Regions from separate parts of the Homo sapiens genome. Here all the other regions are linked to region 1. The links come from fine-mapping of genetic effects on gene expression. A gene starts in region 1. Each other region holds a variant in brackets. All regions are shown on one strand. Distances are between the middles of the regions.

The links. PIP is the estimated chance that this variant, and not a neighbour inherited with it, causes the effect. A credible set is the group of variants that fine-mapping cannot tell apart.
Region 2: its variant is the best candidate, but not a certain one, in a credible set for the expression of RAB5A in neutrophils (CEDAR, PIP 0.52).
Region 3: its variant is the best candidate, but not a certain one, in a credible set for the expression of RAB5A in testis (GTEx, PIP 0.58).
Region 4: its variant is the best candidate, but not a certain one, in a credible set for the expression of RAB5A in whole blood (TOPMed, PIP 0.53).

The regions. Positions count from the first base shown.
Region 1 is chr3:19,943,938-19,950,317 of GRCh38, reverse strand. RAB5A (RAB5A, member RAS oncogene family) reads right to left here and starts at 3,221. Exons shown (of 6, transcript NM_004162.5): 1 at 2,797-3,221. It also overlaps a transcript of EFHB not described here. RefSeq lists enhancers at 1,937-2,536, 2,583-2,632, 3,153-3,202, 3,064-3,233, 3,159-3,328 and 1 more.
Region 2 is chr3:19,996,030-20,001,597 of GRCh38, reverse strand. PP2D1 (protein phosphatase 2C like domain containing 1) reads left to right here. Exons shown (of 3, transcript NM_001252657.2): 2 at 1-568. It also overlaps the pseudogene RNU4-85P. Among named protein-coding and RNA genes, the nearest start is that of PP2D1, 13 kb to the left of the region's middle. The variant G/AAG (reference allele first, on the strand shown) is at 2,517.
Region 3 is chr3:20,021,233-20,027,612 of GRCh38, reverse strand. No RefSeq gene overlaps it. Among named protein-coding and RNA genes, the nearest start is that of PP2D1, 12 kb to the right of the region's middle. RefSeq lists a cis regulatory region at 4,306-4,753. The variant C/T (reference allele first, on the strand shown) is at 3,443.
Region 4 is chr3:19,971,220-19,976,843 of GRCh38, reverse strand. RAB5A (RAB5A, member RAS oncogene family) reads right to left here. Exons shown (of 6, transcript NM_004162.5): 3 at 1,092-1,243; 4 at 675-797. Among named protein-coding and RNA genes, the nearest start is that of RAB5A, 27 kb to the right of the region's middle. The variant C/A (reference allele first, on the strand shown) is at 2,862.

The DNA of each region.
Region 1 (6,380 bases):
CCTAAAATTTAGTATTATTTGAAGTTTTCTGTTAAACGATGCATTTTTCATTTAATTAATGGTAATTTTGGACAACAAATATTTTCAGTCTCCCAGGTTTGTGTGCCTAACGGCAGACTTAAAACTGTTTCCTCATCTGCTCAAGCACACCATACACAGAAATGCTAACAGTTGTTCTCCATGTGGTGATTATTACTGACTTATTTACTTACAATAATTGTAACTTTTTTGTAGTCTTTAGACGAACAATATACATGCCATTTTTAAAAAAATTTTTTTGGAGAAAGGGTTTTGCTCTCTCACCCAGGCTGGAGTGCAGTGGCGTGGTCACAGCTCACTGCAACCTAGACCTCCTGGGCTCAAGCAATCCTCCTGCCTCAACCTCCTGAGTAGCTGAGACTACAGGCGCTCAGAACCATGCCAGGCTAATTTTTTGGTAGAGACACTTAACTGCTATGTTGCCCAGGATGATCCTGAACTCTCGGGCTCAAGCAATCCTCCTGCCTCAGCCTCGCAAAGTGCTGGGATTACAGGTGTGAGCCACCACGCCCAGCCTGCAGGCCATTATTTTTTATTTAAACAACACATTAAAGAAATCTAGCCTGAATGGCGACTTCTATGCTAATTTTTAATCTCTAAGGAATTAGTGAATATTTGAAGAACCTTTTTCAATCCACTCACAAACCAATCTTAACAGTTTCCTTCTATCTTTAATCAAAATCCGAATACATGCTAATATATTAAACCTGATGATTCCCTCTCTAAAAACCCTGCTATATTTCATTTAGCTACCTCATATAAGAAATACGTCTTTCACACTGGACAGAGTGGCTTATACCGGTAAATCCCAACACTTTGGGGGTGAGGCAGGAGGACTCTGAGACCAGCCTGGGCAACACAGTGAGACCCTGTCTCTATATTAAAAACAAAAGAAAGAAATATGCCTTTCCCATAAAATGAGCTTATAATACGCTCTTCATAATGAATTCCCTAACATGTCCACGAGATCTTAGTTCTTAAGGCAATGAAACTACCTCCTTGCCTTAACTAAACACCAGCTTTTTAGAGTCCTTATCTTTTACCATTACATACTGAAATATTTACAGATTTATTGACGTAATATCTGAGTTGCTTCCAAATAACAAGGTATAAATAAAAATGCCCCCTCCTCCACAAACATACCAGATTTAGGGGTGTAATCCTGGCTATACCAATTTCCGTCTGGGCAAACTCTTTAATTTCCAAGTTTCTATTCCCATAATATCTAACTTGCATAGCTGATGTGACAATTAAATAAAACAATACATGTAAACAATCTCTAATATACATAGTAGGGATTGAAATTGCCAATAATGTGCTCCTTTGATAAGAAAATGATAAAATATCAATAGAACATCATATATACTGAAAATGCACCAATACATCTTCAGATATTACACACAATCAAAACATTTTCCATTTGTCTTTTTATTTAAGAAAACAAGAAATTACTTATCAAGGACAATATGCTCCAAATTTCTACGGCACTTCCAAAATTTTAGGGAAAATATCAGACTCCCATTAAAAAAAAAAATCAAACAAGATTCTGATTTCACTTTGACTTTTAAGGTTTAAAGCTACTTAATTGTGGCTACTCCCCCTAAGGATCTCAAACAGGAAATAACTAAAGTTAATGGTAAATATACACTTAGCATAACACTAAGGTTAAAAATTACGTGCATTCATTTGTATTCACTGCTTACTGAAACTTCTGTTTTGCAAAACAAGAATTTTGCATAATATACATTTGTAATCTTTTGAAAATAACTGTTATTCATTCTATAGTTAAAATCCTTCTAAGGGTTCTTTGATCAAAAAATTGACTGGGCACTTATTTTGTGCCAGGCACTGTTCCATTTACTTTGTTTATACAAATGCTGAGTTATCACTTCCATTTTACTTTAGGAATAAAGTTTATGAGCAGTCTTGAGTATTCCCAGAGGTGTACAAGTGTTTTTTTCTTATTATGTGAAAGGCAACTGATTGAACGCTTTGATTCCATTTAAGCAAGACAAAAACCAAGTATGTGAACTATGACGTTCAGAACTTAACAAGTTTGAAAGTCTCAGAGGTAAGCAGCTTCCAGGGAAGATAACGCCAGAGCAAGTTCCATGGTCTCTACCCAGTGAAGGAGTTCAGCGGTCCTGTTATCTTGAATTTATTTAACGCTGTAGTTCACTACCTTCCAAACAGAAAACAAGTCTCTAGACAGCCTATTTTGACGAGCCTCCCACCCACCGACACTACTCATCTTTGGAAGTTGAAGATAGGCGGAGCTCCCCACATTGACACCTGCAGTAGGCCCAGGTTCCTGCTTGGAGAGCACCTGAGTAGCTAATAGCCAACTACAGATCGCCTGGATAAGCAGCACTCGCCAGGTCCCTTGGCCTTTCCAACCTCCTCCCCCGAACCTGCCTTGCTTTGACCGAGACCCCCAGGACTGCCAGGACGGAGACCAGGCGGAACCGCGGCCTCCAGTACACTTTCCACGGCGCCATCTTGAGAAGGGAAAGGGTGACACCCGTCGCTCCCTCAGTCAGTCCCCAAATCCCGGTCTCCAGAGCCCCTGGAGGATGAGTCACCAGGGCTGGCAGAACAAGACGCCGGGTTCGATAGTTCTCTGGTCCAGGGCACTGCTGCGCGTGAGGGAGAAGGGGTGGGGGGTCTCAGTACCGGCAGGGCCGCGGACAGGCTGGGGACCGCGGATAACCTGGGGTCCAGGCCCCCGCTGCGCAGGAGGAGGGGCGGTTCGGTTACCTGAGACCGCAGCAAGCCGAGCTGCGGGGCCGAAGCTTCCTGGCAGCAAGGCCCAGGCGTGGCCCGTAGGATGAGAGTGTATCTATGGCGGTGGTGGTGGCGGCGGCGGCGTCGCCTGCTCTTAGCGCCGCTCCCCTCACACTGGACTGTGCGGGGCTCGTGCCGTGGTGCCGCCCCTGTCGGGCTCCGTCTCCGCCTCTCGCCGCTCCCCCTTCCTCTTTCCTTTCTCCTCCTCCGCCGCCGCCGCCGCCGCCGGCGCTGGAGTTCCGACTAATTCTTCCTCCTCCTCCTCCCTCTGCCTCCTCCCCTAAGGCCAGCCGCCGGCTCCTTCACGAACCAAAACACAAACACTCAAGTCCCACCGCCGGAGCCACTTCCGCTGCCCGGTGCCGGCCCCGCCGCCACGTCGCTGCACGCAGCGAACTGCGCCACTTCGTCACTTCCCATCATCGCCAGTCCGCCTGCTCCTTCCGCTTCCTCGCCCCTTCCCGAATCCCTCCCCGCCTAGGTTTGTTCGCGGGGCGGGGCGAGGCAGGATGTCACGTGACCCTGCGAGTGGCTCAGATCCGAACTGGCCGCCTTTCTCCCCTTCCCCCACCCCAGGTACGCGCGGCCACGCCCTCTCCAGCGCCATTGTTATTTAGGCTGGGGGGTCTCTGGGCTCCTGGCGGCCGGGGTCGGGGGAAATTCCTTTACTATTCTTTGGGGGAAGATCAAAATAACTTGTGTTTTTTTGTTTGTTTTTTGTGCCCAGCCCTTGTGGGAGCGGCGAGGTTCCCTAACCCCAATCCTGGCATCTCGGCTAAGGGGCTTTATTAGAGGGAACTTGTCTAGCACGAGAGAACCTCCTCCCACAAAATGGCCCTGGGGTTGGGTAGGTCGGTAAAGGCTGCTAAATCGCATTTACCCCAAGGAGGAAGAAAGGACCCTCCCTATCCCAAAAGCCGCCTTTAGGCGCCTGACAATAAGAAGTCGCTTCTGTTAAGAGTTTACGTGGTTTTGGTAGGGGGCGGGGAAGGCCAAATCCTAAAATAGTGTCTGCCTTTTATTCAGAATTTCCCTTCGCTCTTTACTGTACTAAACGCTTTACAGGAATTATCCCATTGAATTCTTACACTCGAGTCTTTCATTCTGAAACTAACTTGTTAATCGTCTGTTCCCTACATTCGAATTTTAGCTCCCCTTGGTGGTCCTCACCGCTGTAAATCTATGTCTAGCCCAGTGCCTGGCAGCCAAGTCTTCAGTTCTAGTTGTAGATGTTTTATAGGTAAAGAATTTGAGACACAAGAGATTGAGTAACTTGTCCGAGATCACGGCTGTGTGGTGCAGAAGCTGGATTCTGATCTGCGGCGGGTTGGCTCCAGAACGTGAGTTGTTGAACACAATTCTGGTGAAAGACAACCCAAGATGTTCGTTACCCTCCACGGGGGACCTACTGAAGATGTGCTGCTTTAGTTGAATCCCACACCACATTCAGTCTCTGGCGAGGCTTCAGCCACCACCCCCTCCCCAGCCTCCGCCAAAAAAATTGTTTTGATAATTTAGTGGAAGAATATTAAATTGATTTTCCTTCAGAATAAAGGCTACTTTTCAGTTTGCAGTTTACAATGTATAGCTCTGTTGTAAGGGCGAGAATATTGTCTTTGAAGTGTACCGGGTTAAGGTATCTTATGGGCGTACAGTCGGCGGCATTGTGCAATTAAGATGATTTGAACTTTGAACAGCCCGTCTTTCAGATCAACTACCTAGTTGCCAGAAGAACGTAATGTGTCATACGTAAATGATACCTGTGGCATTTTATTCTCAAGGAGTTGTTCAATATGAACTATTAATCATGGTAATAGCTCTGGGACAATCCCAGGAGGAGTCAGGAAATAGGATATGTGACATCAGTTTTGTCATGTCAACAGTATGCCCAAAACGAAACCTATTCCACTCCAAACCTGCTTCTGCTTAGAGACTGGCATTAACATCCTCCCAGTCACCCAGACTTGGAACTGCAGAATCAGCTTCACCTCTTTCTTCTCCTCACAAACCATTGTCCATTCTATCAACAAATTATCTAATCCCCAAATTTGAAGTCTAATCCCAACACCTGGTCCATGGTAGTGTTTATATAAACTGAAATTAATGCATACTGCTGTTCTTTCTGTCCATTCTTTACATTTTAGCCACTCTACTAAAAAATGTTCAATGCTATGTCATTACTTGACAGTCTAAAGTTCTTTAACTCTAGTCCCAACCCAAGTTTCTTTCATTCTATTTCTATAGAATTCCTCTCCCCATACTCTTTATTTGTTCCCTGATCACACGTATCTGGTCTGTGTTCCCTGAATATTGCCTGTGTGTTGCCATCTTGGTATCTGATCACTTTATTTTCTCCACATGGAACACTATCATTGCCCATAACTGCTGGCTCCGTCTTAGCCAGGACACCAGTTCCTTTGGACCGCATCTGCAGATACTTCTACTGGATTCAATTATTATTTTTTCTGTAATTTCACAATACTTTGCCTTACTCTGTATAATGGCTGTCTTAAAATCTGCCTTATTTTAATAGCTAATGAGCACCTGGACTTTTCTCCTTAGCCTTTCATTGAATTATAAGGTTTTTAAGGGCTGTGACCATCAGTTATTCATCATTTCAGTTCTTCACAGAAGACCCTTGACTGCTATAATAGGGACCCCCAAAGTATTGGTGAACTTAATTACATTTAGAATCACGAACATTAAGAAGACCTCACAATGAAAAACATTTGATGCTGAAATTTATAAATTGCAAAAAACTCCCTATTTCATCGTTCCAGTATGTTGCTTCTTCACTCGTTCCTGTTTAGTGATTTTGTCTTCACCTCCTTCATGAATACTTTTCACAATATTTTACAGTTTAGTCATAATGTTTGCCTGGAAGAGTGCTGCCCTGGTGGCTGGCATTTCTAAAGATCCGGTAGTAGTTTTAGAGAAATTGAAATGACACAGTAAAGCTCTGTTGTTTTATTGCCACTTGCAATATGCCTATGTTTTCTTTTTCATAGCCCCAGATAACTGAGGAGGACTGATAATTGTATATATTTTAGTGTCAAATGTGGAGTCCTACCAGTTGATAGAACTTGTTAAGGAAGGTACAAAATGGATAAATAATCATGAAGACTTAAACACTGTCTTTGATGCTTATACTGCCCTCAAATCTCTAAATACTCAATAACAAATTCCCAGTGGCAGGTGTCTCTCTACCATTCACAGGATCCCATAACCTTTTCCTTCTCTTCCAGGAAATCTGTCCTCCCTTGTGTAGCTAAAGAATGAATCTTTGCATAGATGATAATGAATGGTTACATTTACTTTTAACTGGAACTGTCTGGAGACAATTCAAAATTTTTCCTGGAGACAAACCAACGGTAACTCTAACATTGGCGTAGTAGCAAGTCAGTGAATAAAAGGCTGTGAAAACTTAAGCTAGTCATGTTTCAAAAGCTTGTGTCTTTGGAGGGCATCATTCAGGCTTCAGCTCAAATGTCATCTACCTAAGGGACTTCTAAGCCCACTAATTCTAAATGCTTTGTTACATATCGAAGTAGTCTGTT
Region 2 (5,568 bases), 52 kb before region 1:
GAAGACAGGAATTCTACATGGAAAGCTGACATGAATGATAAATTCACTGTAGTGAGTAATTTTGGTAACAAACCTAATGTGTGTTTTTTTGGTTTGTTTGATGGACATCACGGTGCCTCAGCGGCAGAGTTGACATCAATGGAACTCCCAGTTTTACTTCTCCATCAGCTTTCCAAATTTGATCCTTCTTACCAAATGACAACTGATGAGCAACAAATAATCAATTCCTTTTACACTGTGTTTAGAGAAGAATACGCAGCAATAGAAGACCTCTTTTCTGCCATAAACAAAACAGAAGCAGTGAGGTGTGAGTATGAGGACACACACAAAGCCTTTGCAAAAGCATTTTGGAGAATGGATAGGCTTTTAGGTCTTGGAAGAAAAGAAGTGTCCAGGGTTCAATGGAGTGGCTGCTCTGCAGTTACTTGTATATTGGAAGGCAAACCTAAAAGTCCTTATGCTCATAAGAATTGGAAAAGAAAAAATACCCATGATGGGTTGGCAGAGAGCTCCCCTTCCCAGGAGATGCCAAAAATAATTTCTGGAATATTACATGTTGCAAACACTGGTATGTACATTGAATAGCACCAAATAACACCTTTATGTTTTTGGTTCCTTGCAGCAAAACCCCTCATGCTTCCACAATTTTTTATTGTCTATTATTTAGTGACTTAGTACCTAGAAATTGCATTGATCAATATAAGAAACAACAAATAACCACAATTTAAATGCAGATTGCAGGCACAAAAATAATTGTAATTATTTTTTAAAGAGGCACAGATATGATATAATGTGACAAATACGTTAAAGTTTCCCAAAGGGGTAGCAACACAGTTGTTGATAAGGATGAAAAGCAAAGTTACTACATATGCTTAAATCTGAACAAAATTAAAAACATTTTGTACACTTCCTTTTTTCAGAAAAATGGAAAGTTGTTTGCTCATTGTTAGTGTAGTTGTTTAAATTGGTCAGTTACTCTGATAACTGTATTTGCAATAGGTCATTCTCATGCTCACTGGCCAAGTAGCATCTATTTCATCTCAGAGAGAATAATAGTTCATGCCTCAGTTTTATGAGCGTGTATTCTCTTCTTTAAGAAGTTACCTGTATTGTTTAAAGGTTATTTCAGGGAGTTTAGGAACTTGCCAAAATGGAAAGCTCAGAGGTAAAACTTTTTAGCAAAATTGACATGAGTTCCACACTGAGTTCCATGAGATACTTAACTACAGTTCTACTACCCTTTTCATAGATAGAATTATCATTAATGATAGTGTCCACTTACTGAATATTGAATACAGAGTAATTTCCTCGTCTAGTCTTACAATAACTTTGATATCTAGTGATATCTAAGTATTGTTAACCCAATGTTTCAGATGAGAAATTAAAGCTAAAAAATGTGAGATAATTTGTTCAAGGTCTCAGAAGTAATAGGAATTGGAGTTGGAAATCAGTCCTACCATATCATGTTACCTCTTAAGGGGATTGTTTCCAAAGCCTGAGGAGGCTGGGCCTCCGCGAGTGGGACTTTGTGGCAGAGACAGTGTTGCAAGGCCAGATAATCACAAAGAATACTACAACAAATGTCAAGGTGCCAGAAAGTCAGCCTGTTTCTGATCCAACCTGGTTCTGAGCCTGAAATGTCAAGGGCTCCAGACTAAACAATACCAAGAAAGCTAAGTGCATGTCCACTGCCTCACAGTCTTTGTCGTTTCTCAGGCTCTATGCTGAGGTTCCAAATACTTCATAGACATAATCATTACAGATTTAAGGCCAATCTGTGAACTGACCCATATTCTTGGAATTGGGACCCCTATGGAAGATATCATTAATTATAAAAGTCTTTGTAAAATTAATATGACAAATTATGACATATTCAATAAGTGGATACTGTCATTAAATGTCTAGACACAGCTGTGGGTGGTGGCTCACGCCTGTAATTCCAGCACTTTGGGAGGCCGAGGTGGGTGGATCACCTCAGGTCAGGAGTTTGAGACCAGCCTGGCCAACATAGTGAAACCCCGTCTTTACTAAAAATACAAAAAAAAAAAAAAATTAGCCAGGCGTGGCAGGTGCCTGTAATCCCAGCTACTCAGGAGGCTGAGGCAGGAGAATCGCTTGAGCCTGAGAGGCGGAGGTTGCAGTGAGCTGAGATCACACCACTGCACTCCAGACTGGGCAACAAAGAGAGACTCCGTCTCCAAAAAAATAAAAAATAAAAAAATGGCTGGGCGCGGTGGCTGACGCCTGTAACCAGCATTTTGGGAGGCCAAGGCGGGTGGATCACGAGGTCAGGAGATCGAGACCATCCTGGCCAACCTGGTGAAACCCTGTCTTTCCTAAAAATACAAAAATTAGCTGGGAGTGGTGGTGCATGCCTGTAATCCCAGCTACTCAGGAGGCTGTGGCAGGAGAATGGTGTGAACCCAGGAGGCGGAGGTTGCAGTGAGCTGAGATCATGCCACTGCACTCCAGCCTGGTAACAGAGCAGGACTCTGTCTCAAAAAAAAAAAAAAAAA[G/AAG]TCTAGACACACTGCTGATTGGTTGGTTCTAATCTCCAGGTCAAACAGTTGGATTTAATTTCCAGGCCTATACAATGGTGTTAAACTGTTTGCATCTAGGCATGTTGCATTTTCATAGAAAGACACATGGGTGAAAAAAATTCAAATTGTAAAAGAGAGAACCTGAGGTCATGATTTAGCTACAAAAGTACTTCTGTAAGAAAGAACTTTAAATGACTTTCAGCCATAAGAAAATAATTTTACACAAATTTTTCAAGAATTATTTTGTATTTTATAGAACAGGATTAATTATAGCAAGGGAATTAGGTTTCCCTGTTTAAAATTCATAATATATCAATGTCATCATGACTCTAGAATTTAAAAAAAATTATTACCTTATAATGACATATTAGTTCAATGATGAAGCCATTGAATACAGGTTGAATTTGTGCATGTAGAAAAAGGTACTGCCAAACTCACATTCTTTTTAAAAATGTTTATCTATTTTATTGATACATAATAATTATAAATATTCATGGGGTACCTGTGGCATTTTGATATATGCATATAATATGTAATGATCAAATCAGAGTATTTAAGATATTCATCACCTGAAATGTGTATTATTTCTTTGTGTTGGGAACACTTCAACTCTTCTAGCTATTTTAAGATATACAGTGAATTATTGTTAACTATAGTCACCCTAATGTGCTATCAAACACTAGAACTTATTCCTTGTCTCTAACTGTATGTTTGCACCTTTTTTTTTTTTTGAGACGGAGTCTCACTCTGTTGCCTAGGCTGGAGTGCAGTGGCGCGATCTTGGCTCACTGCAATCTCCGCCTCCCGGGTTTAAGCCATTCTCCTGCCTCAGCCTTCTGAGTAGCTGGGATAACAGGTGCATGCCACCACGGCTGGACAATTTTTGTATTTTTAGTAGAGACAGGGTTTCACCATGCTGGTCAGGCTGGTCCCAAACTCCTGGCCTCAGGTGACCCACCCTCCTCTGCCTCCCAAAGTGCTAGTATTACAGACGTGAGCCACCGTGCCCAGCCTATTTTTGTATTTTTAGTAGAGACAGAGTTTCAACATGTTGGTCAGCCTGGTCTCGAACTCCTGACCTTGTGATCTGCTCATCTCAGCCTCCCAAAAGTGCTGGGATTACAGGGGTGAGCCACTGTGCCTGGACTGTTTGTACTTATTAACCAACCTTACTTTATCTCGTCCTGCCCCGTCCCCAACCTTTCCCAATCTTTGGTAACCATCATTCTGCTTTACCTCATTGAGATCAACAATTTTTAGGACCCACATATGAGAGAGAACATGTAATGTTTGTCTTTCTGGTCTGGCTTATTTCACTTAACATAATGCCCTCAGTTCCATCCATGTTGCTACAAATGACAGAATTTCCTTCTTTTTCATGGCTTCATAGTATTCCGTTGTGTACTTATACTACATTTTCTTTACCCATTCATCTACTGATGGACATTAAGTTGACCCTGTATCTTTACTATTGTGAATAGTGCTGCATAAAACGTGGGGGTGCAGGTATCTCCTTGATATCCATTGGCTACATACTCAGTAGTGGGATCTGCTCCCCATGACTCAAACATCTATCAGAACCCATCTCCAACATTGTTGATAAAATTTCAACATGATGTTTGGGGGGAACAAAAATACATACCATAGCAGGGCCTTTATTATGTTGAGACATGTTTCTTCTATGCCTAATTTGTTGAGAATTTTTATCATGAAGAGATGTTGAATTTTATCAGAAAAATTTGGGGGGCATTTATTGAGATAATCATATGGTATTTCTCCTTCATTCTGTTGGTAATGTGTCATATTTATTTTATTTTTAATGCTTGCTGTATTACAAGTCGTCACGGTGGGCTATTTATCATACTCAGTAGTGGGATCTGCTCCCCATGACTCAAACATCTATCAGAACCCATCTCCAGCATTGTTGATAAAATTTCAACATGATGTTTGGGGTAAACAAAAATACATACCATAGCAGGGCCTTTCTTCTGTTGAGATATGTTTCTTCTATGCCTAATTTGTTGAGAAGTTTTATCATGAAGAGATGTTAAATTTATCAAAAAAATTTTTGGCCATCTATTGAGGTTATCATATGGTATTTCTCCTTCATTCTGTTGGTAATGTGTCATATTTATTTTATTTTTAATGCTTGCTGTATTACAAGTCGTCACGGTGAGCTATGGGGAAAAGTTTTCAATTAGCAATAATCACAACGTGGCTAAACCTCACTGGCTATGATACTGCCTCTGCACAAAGCTTCACATTTATTGATTTCTGTGTGAACCATCCTTGCATCCCTGGAATAAATCCCACTTGATCATGGTGCTTTTTTTAAAAAAAAAAATATGTTGTTTGATTCAGCTTGCTAGTATTTTGTTGAGGATTTTCACATCTACATTCATCAGGGATATTGGCCTATAGTTTTCTTCTTTGTTGTTGTGTGTTTTCTGATTTTGGTATCCAGGTAATGCTGGGCTCATGGAATGAGTTAAAAAGAATTCCTTCCTCTTCAATTTTCTGAAAGTTTGAGAAGAATTGGTGTTAATTCTTTTTTATAAGTTTGGTAGAATTCAGCAGTGAAGCCATCTGGTCCCGGGCTTTTCATTTGGGGGACTTTTTATTACTGACTCAATCCTGCTACTTGTTATTTGTCTGTTCAGGTTTTCTATTTCCTCCTAGTCCAATCTTGGTAGGGTTGTAAGTGTCCACGTGTTTATCCATTTCCTCTAGGTTTTCTAATTTGTTAGGGTATAGTTGTTCAAATAGTCTCTAATGATCTTTTGTTTTTTAGTGGCATCTGTTGTAATGTCTCCTTTTTCATTTCTGATTTTTTTGGGATTTTCTCTCTTTTTTCTTGTTTAGGCTAGCTAATGGTTTATTGACTTTTAAAATCTTTTCATAAAAACAACCTTTTGTTTTATTGCTCCTATGTGTATTTTTTAGTGTCTACCTTGGTTAATTCTGCTCTGATCTTTATTTTTTTTGCTTCTATTAATTTTGAGTTTAGTTTGTCCTGGATTTCCTAGTTTCT
Region 3 (6,380 bases), 77 kb before region 1:
CTTTACGGAAACAAATCTAAAATTTGGAAGATAACAGAGCCAGAAGATTTGACAGGAGACATTAGAGAAACCTAGTTAAGGTCAAATGGAAAAATTAGAAGTTCAGTTGTTTAAAATGAACAACACTTTTTAGCACAATTCTGACATATAGCATTTGCCAGGCACTTCTTGGCCTAGTGAGAAGTAATGGGCACTGAGAAATATGGGTGGGACCAAAGGAAATTTAACTCATGCCAACAATTTGACTTACAGGTTGGGTTGCTAGCCCTCAGCAAAACCAAATGAAAGCTTCAGGAAGTTAGCACTACTAGCCACATCCGTACATCTTAAAACACACACCTGGAATGTTTTAACAGCTGGAATCCAATTTCTGAGGTGATTCATGAGAAAGTCAAATTTGATATAGCGTCCACCAATAATAAAACAACAAGAGTTGGCCAGGCGCGGTGGCTCACATCTGTAATCTCAGCACTTTGAGAGGTTGAGGTGGGTGGATCACCTGAGGTCAGGAGTTCGAGACTGGCCTGGCCAACATGGTGAAACTCCGTCTCTACTAAAAATACACAAATTAGCTGGGCATGTTGGTGGGCATCTGTAATCCCAGCTACTCGGGAGGCTGAGGCGGGAGAATTGCTTGAACCCGGGAGGCGGACATTGCAGTGAGCCGAGATTGCACCACTGCACCACAGCCTAGGCAACAGAGCGAGACTCTGTCTCAAAAAAAAAAAAGAAGAGCTAACGGTTTTGGAGAACCTACTGCATGTTAGGTACTGTGATAACCCCTTTTTGCAAAACACGCTATGTAATCCTACCAGGATAGAAAAAGCTGTTCTCATTTTACAGATGAGGAACCTGAGGCTCAGAGAAGTTAGATTATTTTCACCAGAGTCTATTCTGCACTTAACACTTTGGTTTTCAGCCAATAACAATTGTGGCTACCATCTATTTACTTTTTATTTATTTAATTAATTAATTTTTTGAGACAAAGCTTTGCTTTGTCACTCAGGCTGGAATGCAGTGGCACAATTACAGCTCACTGCAGTCTCGACTTCCCCGGCTCAAGTGATCCTCCCACTTAAGCTGCCCGAGTGGCTTAGACTACAGGCATGCACCACCATGCCCTGCTAATTTTTTTTTTTTTTTTTTTGAGACACAGTCTCACTCTGTTGCCCAGGCTGGAGTGCAGTGGTGTGATCTCAGCTCACTGCTACCTCCACCTCCTGGGTTCAAGCGATTCTCCTGCCTCCGCCCTCGTGTAGCTGGGATTACAGGTGCTCCACTATGCCCGGCTAACTTTTTTGGTACTTTTAGTAGAGACAGGGTTTCACCATGTAGGCCAGGCTGGCCTCGAACTCCTGACCTCAAATGATCCACCCACCTTGGTCTCCCAAAGTTTTTGGATTACAGGTATGAGCCACTGCACCCAGCCCCAGCTAATTTTTTAAAAAAAATTTTGTATAGACAGGGGTCTCACTATGTTGCTCAGGCTGATCTTAAACTTCTGGGCTCAAGCAGTCCTCCCACCTTAGCCTTCCAAAGTGCTGAGATTACAGGCGTGCCCAACTTTTTAAATTTAAATTTTTTTTTTTGTTTTTTCATTCACATGATGAGTATTGCAAAATGGCTAACATTTATTGAGAGCCAACTAAGGGCCTGAACATGGGTTGTAACTAATTTAATCTTCACAACAACCCTGTATTTGGAAGCATTTAGTGGTTTTATTTGCAATAAAGCACCTTCAGCTGCAGCACCTACAATTCTATGTGATAGAAACAAATGTAGTAATAGATGCAGGGTCTCTCCCCCATCTCCTGATTTGAAAGCAGAGGGGAAAATGGGCTCTCTTCTGTCACCCTGCTGAGAATCCTATGCTCTGTGCAGAAGAGGGTATTTTCTATTCCAGAGCAGCACTCTTCAATACATTTTCCTGTGATAAAGGGAATGTTCTCTATTTGCATTATTCAATATGGTAGCTACTGGCCATGTGTGAGTGTGCAAAATGTGGTTGATAAGACTGATAAGCTAAAATTCTAAATAGTTTGAATTTAAATAGCCACCTATTATGGGGCTAATAGCTACCATGTTGGAGAGCACAGTTCTAAGGGAGATGACTGCTTGGTGGCCAAATTCTCAGCAGAGTCCACTCTGGCTTCTCTTACCTCTTCTATTGGCCAGCTTCTGAGGCACGTATCTTCAGACTAAGACCTCACTGCTAAGAACTGAGGATGAGGGAAAAATATGGGAATCTTTCTTACTCCCTCTATTAAAAACTAAATATTTAAGAGCTCAAATGATTACTCTATTTGTTTATTAATTTATTTAATAAATATTTATGAAACTTTTACTATATAGCAGGCATATTTACTACGAATCTATGAATTGGCTCTGGGATTAAAAAGGCAAGCAGGATGGGAATGAAGAGACAGACATTGCTTAAATAATCAAACAAATACACCATTACAAACTTGAATCAGCCGGGTATGGTGGCTCATGCCTGTAATCCCAGCACTTTGGGAGGCTGAGGCAGCAAATCACTTGAGATCGGGAGTTCAGACCAGCCTGACCAACATGAAGAAACCCCGTCTCTACTAAAAATACAAAATTAGCTGGACGTGGTGGCTCATGCCTGTAATCCCAGCTACTCGGGAGGCTGAGGCGGGAGAATCACTTGAACCTGGGAAGTGGAGGTTGTGGTGAGCCAAGATCGAGCCATTGCACTCCAGCCTGGGCAACAAGAGCAAAACTCTGTCTCAAAAAAAAAAAAAAAAAGTCTAGACTCGGTGGCTAACACCTGTAATCCCAGCACTTTGGGAGACCGAGGTGAGTGGATCACCTGAGGTCAGAAGTTCGAGACCAGCCTGACCAACATGGAGAAACCCCGTCTCTACTAAAAATACAAAATTAGCCAGGCGTGGTGGCACGTGCCTGTAATCCCAGCTACTCAGGAGGCTAAGGCAGGAGAATCGCTTAAACCTGGGAGGTGGAGGTTGCAGTGAGCTGAGATCGTGCCATTGCACTCTGGCCTGGGCAACAGAGCAAGACTCCGTCTCACATAAGTAAGTAAGTAAGTAAGTAAGTAAGTAAATAAATAAATAAATAAATAAATAAATAAATAAATAAATAAAATAAAATAAAAAACTTGAATCAATGCAAAGCATAAGGAGTTCTGGAGGCATTTGACAAAGTGTGGAGGATTCCTGTGAAGCATCAGGAAACATTTTTCTGATGATGCTAAAGTTCAGCTTGTGGAAATGAGGTTTTAATTGAGGAATGAGTTAGAATTAACTGAGTGCCAGTGGAGAGAAAAGCCTTTGAGCAGAGAGAATAGCATGTACAGGCCTGAGGTGGGCAGAGTGTGGATTATGTTTGAGGAATGTTAATGAATGGGAAAGTGGGGAGAGATTAGGCTGAAGAGTCAGGCTTTGGCCAGGCCCTACAGAAC[C/T]TTTCTCATCATATTAGGACTTTTGACCTTTATTCCAGAAACAGTGGAAAGCTACTGAAAGGTTTTAAGCAGAAGAGTGATATGGTTAGAAAATAAACTTAAAAAAAAAAAAAAAAGCAAAACTTGGCTTTTACAAGGGCCTCATTGTTCCCTGTTCCTTCCTTCCTTCCTCCTTCAGCAAGCAGGCAGGTGACTTCCCCCAGACACAGGGCTGCAGCTGGCCCCAGAAGCAGTTCCTCAGAACAGATTAGAAGTGCTTGGTCCTGGGCCCAGGGGATGAATGGAGCTAAGCTATGTTCTCTCCTCTAATACTCTGTGTGTTCTCTCTGTGTGTTTCTGCCATTAAATAAATACTGGGGGTATTTATAAGAACTGTCAGCAAACCACCCACTCCTTCTCTGCCACAGGCCCAGAAGCCCTCAAACAGTAACAGCCTGTACCAGAATCTCCACGATATCCAAAGAGACAGCTCCGAAAGGAATACTAAATATAACTTTCTTCCACACAGGCTGGTGCCTGCTGCCTTGACTTTTACAATCATAGTTGTGGAACATGTAAGAAACTTGAATTCAACGGGCAGTTTTAAGCCAAACAAGGGCTGCCTACTGGAGAGATTGGCTGTGAATATTTTCTAATCTGACCACCTTCCCATTAAGCCATATGTATTTGATTGTCCTGAAGTTGGGAGGATGACAAGCCAAAGAATTTATTCCAGTGGGAGTAAGGCAAGAATGGAAGAGGGAGAACCAGATATTAAGATTTGTGAATGTATTTGAAGTTCAACGCTTTCAAATAATGTGAAAGAAACATCTAAGCAAATGTATCACTGATTGTCCTCTTCTTCCAAAATGAATTGATTTTTACAGCCACTTTGGAAGACAGTTTGGCAGTTTCTGACAAACTGTTTGCAGGTCAACACACCTGGGCTCTGCCATTTATTGCAGCAAAGTTAACTCACTTTCTAGAGCTTTAGGGTCCTTGTCTGTAAAGTAGATTATTAGTGCCTGTGTGCAGGGTTGTTGTATGGTTGAGAGACAATGTGGGTGGAATGCTTAGAAAGAGCCCAGCACATGGTCAGCACTGATAATGTTATTATCTAGTAGTGCATCTGTGTGTCTGTCTTCCCCATGACAGGCACTGAGCTCATCAAGCACAGAGACCTGCTGTTGGCCTTTATGTCTAGTGCCTACCCCTGCAGGTGCTCAATATATAAAATAATTAATTGAAATAACCATCTTAAAATAAAGGAATTCTTCTCTTGCATTGTTATCTTTCCCAAGATAGTGGTCTATCTTCTAATTTCCTACAACATTCACTGTTTATTTGTATGTGTTTCAGATATGAATTAGGGGGAAAAAATTACTAGATGCACTTCCAGAAAGATATTTTCTCAGAATGCCCTGCTTACACACACACACACCACACTTTAATTAATACATTTTACTTTTGAGTAGTTTTAGGTTTACAAAAAAATTGAGCAGAAAGTACAGACACTTCCAATATACACTTCACTGCCTCCCACCACTTCTTTCCCTTATTATTAACATCTTGCATTAGCGTGGTACATTTGTTATAGTTGATGAGCCAATATTGATATATCATTATAAACTAAAGTCCATAGTTGACATTAAAGTTCACTTTTTGTGTTGTACATTCTATAGGTTTTGACAAATGTGTCACAAGTATTCACCATTACATTATCATACAGAATAGTTTTACAGCCCTAAAAATCTCCTGTTCTCCACCTATTCATCCCTTCTTCTCCTGAACCCCTGGAAACCACTGATCATTTTACTGTCTCCATAGTATTGTCTTTTACAGAATGTCATATAATTAGAATTATATAGTATGTAGCTGTTTCCAGTTGGCTTGCTTTCTCTTCCTACCTTTCTTTCTTTCTTTCTTTCTTTCTTTCTTTCTTTCTTTCTTTCTTTCTTTCTTTCTTTCTTTCCTTCCTTCCTTCTCCTTCCTTCCTTCCTTCCTTTTTTTTCAGGGTCTCACTCTATCACCCAGGCTGGAATGCAGTGGCACACTCTTGCTTCACTGCAACCTCCGCCTCCCAGGCTTCAGTGATCCTCCCACCTCAGCCTCCCAAGTAGCTGGGACTATAGGCCCGCACCACCACACCCAGCTAATTTTTGTATTTTTAGTAGAGACAGGGTTTCGTCATGTTGGCCAGACTGGTCTCGAACTCCAGACCTCAGGTGACCCACCTGCCTCAGCCTCCCAAAGTGCTGGGATTACAGGCGTGAGCCACCATGCCTGGCCTCAGTTGGCTTCCTTCACTTACTGATAGTGATATGCATTTAAGATTCATCCTTGTCTTTTGGGGGCTTGACAACTCATTTCTTTTTTATTTTATTTTATTTTTTTTGAGACGGAGTCTTGATCTGTTGCCAGGCTGGAATGCAGTGGCGCGATCTCAGCTCATTGCAACCTCCACCTCCTGGGTTCAAGCAATTCTCCTACCTCTCAGCCTCCCAAGTGGTTGGGATTACAGGCACGCACCACCACGCCCAGCTAATTTTTGTATTTTTAGTAGAGACGGGGTTACACCATGCTAGTCAGGCGGGTCTCAAACTCCTGACCTCAAGTGATCCACCTGCCTCGGCCTCCCAAAGTGCTGGGATTACAGGCCTGAGCCACCGTACCTGCTTATTTTTATTTTTATTTATTTATTTTTTATCACTGAGCAATGTGTATGGATGTACCATAGTTTGTCTGTTTACCTACTGAAGGATGTCTTGGCTGCTTCCAAGTTTGGCAATTATGAATAAAGCTGCTATAAACACTTATGTGTAGGTTTTTGTGTGAACATAAATTTTCAACTCATTTGGATAAATACCAAGAAGTAACATTGCTAGATCATATGGTTACACTATGTATAGTTTTGTAAAAAACTGCCAAACTGTCTTTCAAAGTAGCCATACCATTTTGC
Region 4 (5,624 bases), 27 kb before region 1:
ACATATGTGGGGTACACACATGTGCTGATACATATTTGCACATGAGTAGAAGAGGGTTAGGACATAAAGTATGTGTGGGATGGAGGAATTAGGGCAGGATACAATCACTTTCTGCACTGTGAACAATGACTACTTTTACTGTTTTTCTTTTTTATTTTGAGACGGAGTTTTGCTCTTGTTGCCCAGGCTGGAGTGCAATAGTGTGATCTTGGCTCACCACAACCTCCGCCTCCTGGGTTCAAGAGATTCTCCTGCCTCAGCCTCCCAAGTAGCTGGGATTACAGGCATGCACTACCATCTCCAGCTAATTTTGTATTTTTAGTAGAGACAGGGTTTCTCCAAGTTGGTTAGGTTGGTCTTGAACTCCCAACCTCAGGTGATCCACCCACCTCGGCCTCCCAAAGTGCTGGGATTACAGGCGTGAGCCACTGAACCCGGCCTTTATTGTTTAAGTCTACAAAATCTTTGGGTCAGTTTATATATTACAATAATCTATTTAAAAATTTAGGTTTATCAGAAACATTTTATTATATGTAGTACTTTATATTTGTTTTAAAAATCAGTATTTTCTATTACTTGCATGGTTTTGACATTATAACTAATTCAAGTGTTGACATGAAAGAAAAACATACAGGAAAAAAGTGCCTTTCAAATGAGAGTTAAATTTAACATACCTGGAAATCTACTGCTCTTTTATTTGCTAGGTCGGCCTTGTTTCCCGATAAAGCTATTACAATGTTAGGACTTGCTTGCCTCTGAAGTTCTTTAACCCAATTTTTTGCTCTTGCAAAGGACTCCTGTTAAACAAAGAAACAGCCATTGAGCACAGGCTCAAAAAATGGTTACCAAGCATCTTTGTGATACAAGGCTTTAAAAGACTGTCCCAAGTGACTGTGGGAAAGAAATTATTAGGACTATTGTATTATGAGACATTTTCGTTTTTTTTTAAAACCAGATTTTCTAATTCACAAAAGCTTCAGCAGAAAGGTCATGACTATCAGAAAAAGATTTTCCAAAACATTTAATCAAAATTCTGAACACCAAAAGTGGGTACTCAAATTAGTTTTACTGTGGAATGCATCCATACTTACCTCATTTGTGATATCATATACAACTATGGCTGCTTGTGCTCCTCTGTAGTACATTGGTGCTAGGCTATGGTATCGTTCTTGACCAGCTGTATCCCATATTTCAAACTTTACTGTAGTGTCATCAAGACATACAGTTTGGGTTAGAAAAGCAGCTGAAAGAAAAGGACTACAATAAGTCAATCATTTTTCTCCAAATGTTTTCATAATATAGAAAACACCTGCTTGTATACATCTATCAAAATGTCACACTGTACCCCGTAAGTATGTACAACTATTATGTGTCAGTTAAAAGTAATAAATGAGGGGGGAAAAAAAAAGAAAACACCTAGAAACTTGACAGATTGCATACCCACAGCTGATAATAGCTTTAAATACTGGCAAACCTGTGCTTCTAAGCTATTTACATATATGCTTACATATAGGGCCTTTGTAGTGAAATCACAGATTGAAAAACTTCTGCATCTTAAAAAAGCTTGTTATAATACTAAATAAACTTAAGACTACATTTCTTTTCCTTCTTCTTTTTTTTTTTTTTTTTGATACAAGAGTCTCAGACTAGAGTGCAGGGGCGTGATCTCAGCTCACTGCAACCTCCGCCTCCCGGGTTCAAGCAATTCTCCTGCCTCAGCCTCCTGAGTAGCTGGGACTACAGGCATGCACCACCACACGTGGCTAATTTTTGTAGTTTTAGTAGAGATGGGGTTTCACCATGTTGGCCAGGCTGGTCTCGAACTCCTGATCTCAGGTGATCCGCCCACCTTGGCCTCCCAAAGTGCTGGGATGACAGGCGTAAGCCACCAAGCCCAGCGAAGACTGCATTTCAAAATTGCTCTACAATTAAAGAAATGCACTGATAGTCTTAAAAAATGAAGTTGGGGGAAACCCAGTGTGCCTAAAAGTACCATCTATACTGCTGACACCATGTCCTGTTCCATTTTACTAGTTTTTATTGGCGCACACTGGCAATTTAGTCCCAGTCAGTTACCACCAAATTAGTATTTCTTGTTATATTATCTTTTTTTTTCTTTTTCTGAGACACAGTCTTGCTCTATCTCCCAGGCTGGAGTGCCTCCCAAAAGTGCTGAGATTATAGGCGTGAGCCACCGTACCAGGCCTCTTGCTATATTATTTTTTAAAACATTGTGACACTTTAATTGTGGTAGTCATTATTACCTTAACCTAGATTTAATTTGTTCAGTTGATTCAATATTTGCTCCTACCTTTCATTCCCTGCCATAAGAATTTTTTGGATCTGTACTTTCCCTGATTCTAATTTTAACACTAGGAAAGTAGCATTATAGGCCAGGCGTGGTGGCTCATGCCTGTAATCCCAGCACTCTGGGAGGCTGAGGAAGGCAAATCACGAGGTCAGGAGATCAAGACCATCCTGGCCAACATGGTGAAACCCTGTCTCTACTAAAAATACAAAAATTAGCTCGACATGGTGGCGCTTGCCTGTGGTTCCGGTTACTCGGGAGGCTGAGGCAGGAGAGTCGTTTGAACCCATGAGGCAGAGGTTGCAGTGAGCTGAGATCGCACCACTGCACTCCATCCTGGCAACAGAGACTCTGTCTCAAAAAAAAAAAAAAAGTAGCATTATAAAATGATACAATATTGTTAAAATTAAAAGACCTACACACAGCCATTAGACCGCCCTCTGCTGCTGCTCTATCATTCACTGTAAATTGGTATGCTCCTCCCTTCCTTCTACATTTAGCTCAAGGTGTGATATTCAAGCCCTATTTCCAAATTGGTATGCACTTGAATTAC[C/A]ATTTTCTAAAACTGTCATATTATGCAAAAGAATTATGATATATTTCTCTAAATTACAGCCGTTTATCTAGTGACGTTGATAGAGATGTACTAACCAGTATCAAATGTGCTAAAGAAACAAAGTCTAATGAGATATATCTCTTTTACGTTAGACACAACATTTATTTTTCACGCTCTTTTAGGTTAACTGGTTGCTGGCTTTAGTATCAACAACTAAAATCTTCTGAATTTTGCAAACAATACTGTAAACATCTTCATTTGGACCTAGATTCTAATTAATAGTTTTATGAATTCTCATTAATCACATTGTAAATATATTCTAATCCAGTTCAAACTTTTTTTTAACCAACAATTAGCAGAATTGTCCATTTTCTAAAATATTGTATTTATGGTAAAGGATATCCAGACAGCACTATGTCACTTTTTGAAGGTCACGAGAGGTTCTCCTGTAGGATCAAAAAATGTTTTTAAACTAAAATTTTAAACTAAAATTAAGTCCCTAAGACAGTACTCTTACCAAAAAGGAAAAGAGGAAAATAAGTCACAATACATAAGCCTTTTTTCAAGTATAGTTTGATGCAGACTTGCAAAAAAAAAAAAAGGAATTAAAATGTGCACAGACTGTTTCATTTTTCAGACATACTATGATCACAAAGTCTACTAGTACTAAAAACATTCACTTATACGTCCATAAGTAAACTTCAGGCTCAGGGAAATAACTATAGTCATCCCTCAGTATCTGTGGAGGACTGTTTCCAGGACCTCCCCATATATCATGAAGGACTGGTTCTAGAATCCCCAATGGATAACAAAATCTGAGGATGCTCAAGTCCCCGATATAAAATTGCAAAGTATGTGTATATAACCTAAGCACATCCTCCTGTATACTTTAAAGCATCTCTAGATTACTTATAATATCTAATACAATGCCTGCACCTCACGTCATCCACATAGATTCAACATAGTATTAAGTGTGTGGCAAATTTAATTTTTGCTTTTTGGAGCTAAGTTAATTTTTTCCCCCTTAATATTTTCAACTTGCAGTTGGTTGCATTTATAAATGTGGAACTCACAGATTCAGAGGGCCAACTGTATTAGAGATGTTGCCTTAAAGAAAATATGATCCAATTCTCAAGCCAGTTAAAGACACAAGAGGCCACCATACATGTACACCATACATGTACAAAAATGCCAAATACAAAGAAATTGCAACAAATACATTAAGACAAACAAATGCCCATTACCAAGTACATTCTTTCAGAAATACAAAACTATTACATTAACAGGCTAATGAAGAAAAATCCATTTTATTTAAACAAATTACAAAAAGGCATTTGAGTCAATATCCATTCCTAATAAACACACGAGATTCTTCCTTATGGCAAAACAGGGCATCATTCCTAAATCTAGGAACAAAACCAAGGGAAATCATGCTGAACAGGAATGGATCCCATTCAGATTAACAAAGAAGATAATCAATTCATTCCTCAACTCTGCTTAGAAACCTTCCTTCATTCCACCCTAGTTAATATCTCCTACATCTGTGCTCCCAGAGTTCTCTGTGTAATAACGTTTCACACCTTTTATAATCATTGGTTTATATCTTTTTCTTCTCCTTGATTGGGAGTTACTTGAGCAATGACCACAGGTTAAGTATCCCTTATCTGAAATGCTTGGAACCAGGAATGTTTTGGATTTTTAAAGATTTTGTAATATTTGCATAATGAGATATTTTTGGGAAGGGATCCAAGTCAAAACATGAAATTCGTTTGTTTCACATAAAGCTTGTACACATAGCCTGAAGCTAAAATAATTTTGTGCATTAAACCAAGTTTATGTACACTGACTCATCAGAAAGCAAAGGTGTTAAGTGTGGAAATTGTTCACTTGTGACATCATATTGATGCTCGAAGAATTTGGGAGCATTTCAGACTTCAGATTAGGGATGCTCAACTTGTAGTAGCTCCTCTCTGTACCAACATTTAATATAAATCCTTGTTCATACAGATGTTCAAAAATGTCTACTAAAAGAAGGAAGTTCAAAAAGATACATGGAACCATTTAGAGGCTACTTCAGATAACATTTGAATGTAGAGAGAGGCAGCTCCCAAATGTGAAAAAATAGATATTTCACAAGGTATCTACTCAAGTTGTAACACAACCTCAAAAACAACATCAAGATATTTTTCACCTGATAACACTGTACTGGGCCAGGTGCGGTGGCTTCCACCTGTAATCCCAGCACTTTGGGAGGCCGAGGCAGGTGGATCACCTGAGGTCAGGAGTTTGAGACCAGCCTGACCGGTATGGCGAAACCTCGTCTCTACTAAAAATACAAAAACAATTAGCCAGGCATGGTGGTGCATGCCTGTAACCCCAGCTACTCGGAAGGCTGAGGCAGGAGAATCACTTGAACTCGGGAGGCAGAGGTTGCAGTGAGCTGAGATTGTGCCATTGCTCTCCAGCCTGGGCAACAAGAGTGTAACTCTGTCTCAAAACAACAACCACCACCACCACCACCACCACCGTACTACTGTTCATGTGGTATGATAAAGCATAATTTTGGGGGAGAAAAGACCAACATTAGAGGCCAGGGAAAATCAGTTTTATAATATACTTTAAAAAATGAAAAGTGCTACAGTACTAAATGAACAGAAATATTACTGGAATAGTGTAGCCCACTATAATAAACTCTTGATATACATAATACACCCTAAGACGTTCATGATTTCTCAAAGTCCTAAAGTTTTAAAATACTACTAT